Regions from separate parts of the Homo sapiens genome. Here region 2 is linked to region 1. Evidence: fine-mapped expression QTL. A gene starts in region 1. The other region holds a variant in brackets. All regions are shown on one strand. Distances are between the middles of the regions. Region 1 holds the start of PPP2R5E (protein phosphatase 2 regulatory subunit B'epsilon). Region 2 overlaps PPP2R5E (protein phosphatase 2 regulatory subunit B'epsilon).

Region 1 (2,914 bases):
AGTTTTATTTATATATAGCTCTATTCCCTAACCGTATCGAAAAGATGATATAATGCTGAGGGAAAAAACTAGGCTACAGATCGACACACATTATTAACATAAAGAGAAAAAATACTAAAAGGAAGTATGCAAATACTGTAAGTGGTTATCTCTGAGTTGAGAAAATAAGAATGTTAATTTTTTTGTCCCCCCCCCCAATTTCTAAGTTTTGAACAACTGGTACTCTGACGTTTGTAGTTAGCATTAATAATTTCTTTCTTCCTTTTTTCCTCTCAAAAAATGTACGTAGGGTGCATTCAAATACATTAATCCAAGAATATTATCTGGAAATGTACCATTTGGCCGTCTGCATTCACCAAGCATGCAAACACATCTCCAAATATCTCATCACTTGTTCTAGATAGATTTAAGTAGTCTTCTCCATTAACTCTTTCGGGTCCAACTTGCCAATTAAAATCTCGAAACTCCTAGTTTGGAGCTGGGTCTTTCCGAGCTCTGAGCAGTCGGCTGACTGGCGGGTTATTCTGAATGAATAGACTGCAAACTGTGGCGACAGCGTTCCCACCTGCATTAATTAAACGAGCGCTGGCTTCAACGCTACAGGGGTCTGATATTCAAAACAGACGTTTAAGGAAAAGGAGATGAGGTGAGAGAAAATTCGAAGAAGGTTCAGCGGAGAGCGACTGCTGGGGGTTTCAAGGGGCCCATTTACACAAGCAGTGGCACACCGGCACGGGCGGGGGATCTTATTCCTGCCTACGCATCACAGGGTCCCGTCCAGAGTGGGACTCCCCAAACCCTGAGGGGCCACACTAGCTGCAGGGCGGGATCAAGTCTCCGGGGCTCCCCGACCCTTAGACGACCCGAGCCCTTGGAATCCTCCGGTCCAAGACGACCGCCGCCCAAAGGCTCCGCACAGCACGGAAAGCCAGCCCGCTGATCCGCTAGTCGCACACCTCCCGGAATTAAAGAGCTCCTCTCAGGCCCAGCGGCTTCTCACTTCAGCTTGCCCCACTGCCGGGCGGAAGCGGCGGCTGCACCGCCCGAGATCGCGGCTGCATCCGGGTTCCTCAAGCTTCGGCCCAATCCTCGACCTTCTCTCTTCCCACCCTCCCGTTTCTCCGCCCTCCTGCCGCCAATCCCTGATCAGGTCTCAGCCGAACATGCTGTCAGGGGAGTGAAGGCGGATACTGGCCAATGAGGCCTCGCTTCCCGTTTGAAGTCTCCAGTGGGCGGGCGCCGGAGGCGGGCGCTGCTGGCCAGAAGGTTCGGTTGCGCGTGTGCCATGGACTCAGCCGCCCGGTGATATTGACAATAGGAGAGAGAAAGGGGCATTGACTGGGACCCACCGCGGGTAGCGAAAGGTGGCTCTGGCAGCGGCGGCTCCAGCTCCTGCGGCTCCTCCTCCTTATTCTGTCCCCTTCTCTTGCTGCCGCTGCAGATCCAGTCTTCCTCCCTCCCTTCCCCCCCTCCCCACGTCGTCGCCGCCGCCGCCGGGTCCGGGGCAACGAGCTGAGGCGCCGCCCGCCAGGAATGTGAGCGAGGAGCCACCGGCGGAGCCGCAACGGGGTCGGTGCCGATTTGATGGGACGGGCCCGCGGGGGAGGATCGTGAGGCCGCCGCCGCCACCGGAACGCTGAGGTTCGGGTCCGGCCGTGAGGCCTAGAGGCTCCGCCGCCGCGGAACCGGAGGGACCCCGTACCGGACAGCCGTCGCCCCAGGCTCCCCGCAGCTGCCCGGACCTCCCCCTGCACGTCCCGGTCCCGCCGCCCGCCCCCGCTGCGGCCACCTCGCCCGTCTCCCGCCCCTCCAAGCCACAGATCATCTTTGGATTCTTCCCCAGAAGCTTCAAGGTAACTTAGTCCCTCCAGCACCGCGGCTCGCCCGCTTCCCTTCTTCCTCCCGGTCCTCCTGGGGAACCTATGGGGCACCGGCCTTGGGAAGGCCTGGCCGGGCAGGCGAGGGGTGCGGTGGGGTGGGGTGCGGGAGCGGGAGCGCCCGTCCCACTTGTCTGATTTACCTACAAATGCTTCTGATGATACCTCTCATTCACTCTGCCCCCTCCCCCCTTTTTCTCCACCTTCTGGGATTGGAGGCGTTTTCTTGCCCCCCTTTATCCACTGGCGGGGGCGGGGAATAAAGAGGGGTTTGGTGTGAGGAGGATTCTCTAGCAGCTTATCGTCTCCAGGGCTTGGGGTGTGGGTTAGGAGCAAAGGGAGTATGTAAGCATCCCCACAGACAAACCCCTTCCCTGTCTTTCCCTACTTCCCCTTACCCCCTTTGGATTATCCTGAGCCATGGAAATGCCCCATGCCTGCTGATTAGAGGATGATAAAGCTTCGGGAGCCCTGGCCCAGGGCGAAACCTGTTTCCCTGGGCTTTGCACGGACCCGCTGTTACCTTACGTTCAGTTTTGCAGTGCTTCAGGGTTGCGATCCTTGACGTTTATTCTGGGCCTCGGGCATAAGGGGTAAATGATTTTTTTAAAAGCTACCTATATATCGTCTGTAGAGATGAGAGATAAGGAATAAAGAAGAGACGAAAAGAGTGATGGAGGAAGAGGATTTACTGAAATGTTGTAGTGTTAGAGTTAGAGTGAAGTCTAAATAATTCACATACCCGAATGGAAAATCGGCCCCTAAATTTACAACGTACAAATAAGATGTGGAGCTTTTGGCTGATGCAGTCATTTTGATATTTTAAAGTGATCTTAACATCTATAGTCATTCATAGTTTGTGATTCTATTTTGAATCCATCACATTATATTAAGGCTAAATTAGGTAGATTTTTAAAAACTTTTTTTTTTTTAAAGAAAACCAAAGAAGACTTCCAAATTCCAAACGTCAACATCATATGTGTGCATGTGTTTTAAAATGTTTTTGTTATTTTTACATTGTCAAAATCCACGTAATC
Region 2 (2,914 bases), 38 kb after region 1:
AGAGACGGGGTTTCAGCATGTTAGCCAGGATGGTCTCCATCTCCTGACCTTGTGATCCACCCGCCGCGGCCTCCCAAAGTGCTAGGATTACAGGCTTGAGCCACTGCGCCCGGCCAATCTTTTTGTTATTAAGGTGAAGAATTCTTTTTATATTCTGGGTATAAGTCCCTTATCAAATATATGATTTGCAAATATTTTCTCCCATTTAGTGGGTTGCCTTTTCTTGATGGTGCCCTTTGAAGCATGCAAATATTTACATGCTCAGAAAATATTTGTCAAAGAATGAATGAAAGAAACACTACCTTTTATTGAAAGCCTTGCCTGACTTTACACAACGTTGTGATTTTGTCTCTTGGATACCTAGGGTGTATATATTTTTTCATATTGATTATAATACTCCCCACATTGCTTTGTAATTTATTTGTAGTATTTTCTCCCTCACCCAGTGATACCTTGGGAGGCAGGTGCTGTGTCTACTATGTTCCTAACTGAGTTTCTGGTGTGGGTAATAGGGTAGTATGTGACGGTCACTGAATGTTGCCTGAATGAATGCATGGATTTCTCTGTGGAACTCTGTCAAGTGAGAGGGGATGCAGCTGGTCCAGATTGTTGGTCTTCAATTTTTATGAACCAGCTTAGATTCAGATTGTAGAGTGTGTGCAGAAGGCTGTGATTCTCCAGCTTGCAGTCCATACTTTATCAAGGACTGCTTGGAGGCAGACGAGCTTGAAGAACTCAGCCTCCTTGCATGGGCTTCTTAGTGTGGAGAAGGGGTGGGGAGAGCAGAGTGAATGGCGAAGTGTTCAGTGTGTGAGCAGGTTGTCATTATTAATGTATCGTAATGACCATGGTGTTTATGGGATTTCTTCAATTTTAAAGTGGTCATTACCAAGGTTAATTATCTTCTTAACCTTAGAGGTGTAAAGCTGCTTTTGGCATCTTTGGAAACTTCTTTTGGAGCTACCAGATTAGATGGTCTTAGTATTTATTTATTTATTTGACAGAGTCTCACTCTTTCCTCCAGGCTGGAGTGCAGTGGCATGATCTTGGGTCATTGCAGCCTCGGCTGCTGGGGTTCAAGCAAACATGTCCGGCTAATTTTTGTATTTTTAGTAGAGGCAGGGTTTCACCATGTTGGCCAGGCTGGTCTGGAACTCCTGACCTCAAATGATCC[G/T]CCTGTCTCGGCCTCCCAAAGTACTGGGATTACAGACATGAGCCACCACGCCCGGCCGGTCTTAGTAATACTTTAAGATTTCTTTCAGCTCTAAGATTTCATAACTCAAAACTTTGTCTTCCCAATGAAATCTTTCTTGATTACTTTAGTCCTTAATGATCCCCATCTTCTTAACCTAAGTCATGCAAGACATATTTATGTGAACAGCATGGTATCATTCATTCATTCAGCAAACATTGCATTAGGAACTTGGCTAGATGCTGGAGTGACAAAGATGACCAAGACAGCATTTTTTTTTTAACAGTGTTTACTGAACACATATTTTATGCTATGCCCTGGGGGTAAAGGGTGACTAAGACGTGTAAGGCACTTGCATTCTACAGGCCATTGCTTTTCATGGGTATAGGTTTTCTCTCCCCAGTTAGACTGTAAGCCTTGTTTTTTGTATCTCATTCCCCCAAACATCTAATACGATGAGTAAATAGTTTCTCAAGCAGTACTTGATTGACTTCTTTTTCCTCTTTTTTTGAGGTGGAGTCTCACTCTGTCGCCGAGGCTGGAGTACAGTGGTGAGATCTCAGCTCACTGCAACCTCCGCCTCCTAGGTTCAAGCCATTTTCCTGCCTCAGCCTCCCAAGTAGCTGGGACTATAGGCGTGAGCCACCACGCCTGGCTAATATTTGTATTTTTAGTAGAGATGGGGTTTTGCCATGTTTGCCAGGCTGGTCTTGAACTCCTGACCTGAAGTGATCCTCCTGCCTTGGCCTCCCAAAGTGCTGGGATTACAGGTGTGAGCCACCGTGCCTGGCCAATTGACTTCTTGGGTGGGTTTTTTTTGTTTTTGTTTTTGCTTTTTTTTTGATTGCCAAGAAAAGTTTTGCTTGCCAAGAAAATGTGAGAGGTATTTGGAACTTTGAAATTTATAATCTATACAATACGTACAGGTCTTGGGCAAGTGGCTACTCAGGTGTTACGGTGGAAATAATCTATACCTGTGCCTGATTCTTGATTGGGAAGAAAAATTTGGAAGTAGTTTAGAGAGTGATTCAAAACTTCTCATATTCCCTAGCTCTTTTAATCTATTTCATTTCTGAATAATGAAGTGATGTATTCAAATTTTGCACTCAGAGGACACTGGCGTGTGATTTTGGGACTGCATGCTTAATCAGAACTTGAAAGAGTTTTTGTTTTGTTTGCTTTGCTTTTAAAACCAGGGTTCTGCCCTTCTTAGTAAAGCATATTTTGGGGCAGGGAGGCATACTGATTGGGATTTTTTCCAAATGGTTTTCCTCACATCTTGCCATCGGAACCTCTTAAATAAGGGCTTTCAAGGCCCCCATGCAATTCTGGTAGTTTCAGTATACCTAAGAGAAGACAGGTTATTAATGATTTTCAGATGTGAAATTCATTAAACTATATAGTAAATTAAAGTGCTTTTGGGGAAGGATAATAGTAGGGAGTATTGAAACAGAACATCTAAAACAACTGTCTTCCTTGCAGTGTTAACATGTGATATAAATGTGGTGTTTTTTGCCCTTACTGCTTGCCTTATGTTACCTCCTTTGCTCTGGAACAGTTGTTTTCAGACTTCAGTGGGCATAGGAATCACCTGAGAAATTGGTTGGAGTTGTTGATTTGCTATCTTTTACCTGGGGGATATGCAGTCCAGGTGGTTCAAATGCTTTTTGAGCAGACTGGATATTGCTTTGGCAGTGTCATAGTGCTTGTTTCTAACCTCTA

What was found. PIP is the estimated chance that this variant, and not a neighbour inherited with it, causes the effect.
Region 2: its variant is the best candidate, but not a certain one, in a credible set for the expression of PPP2R5E in esophagus mucosa (GTEx, PIP 0.86).

The regions. Positions count from the first base shown.
Region 1 is chr14:63,541,718-63,544,631 of GRCh38, reverse strand. PPP2R5E (protein phosphatase 2 regulatory subunit B'epsilon) reads left to right here and starts at 1,255. Exons shown (of 14, transcript NM_006246.5): 1 at 1,255-1,853. LOC112268140 (loricrin-like) reads right to left here and starts at 1,848. Exons shown (of 1, transcript NR_158218.1): 1 at 1-1,848. RefSeq lists enhancers at 940-1,149, 212-1,203 and silencers at 1,440-1,579, 1,620-1,759.
Region 2 is chr14:63,503,370-63,506,283 of GRCh38, reverse strand. All of the region lies in intron 2 of PPP2R5E (protein phosphatase 2 regulatory subunit B'epsilon), which reads left to right. Among named protein-coding and RNA genes, the nearest start is that of PPP2R5E, 39 kb to the left of the region's middle. The variant G/T (reference allele first, on the strand shown) is at 1,175.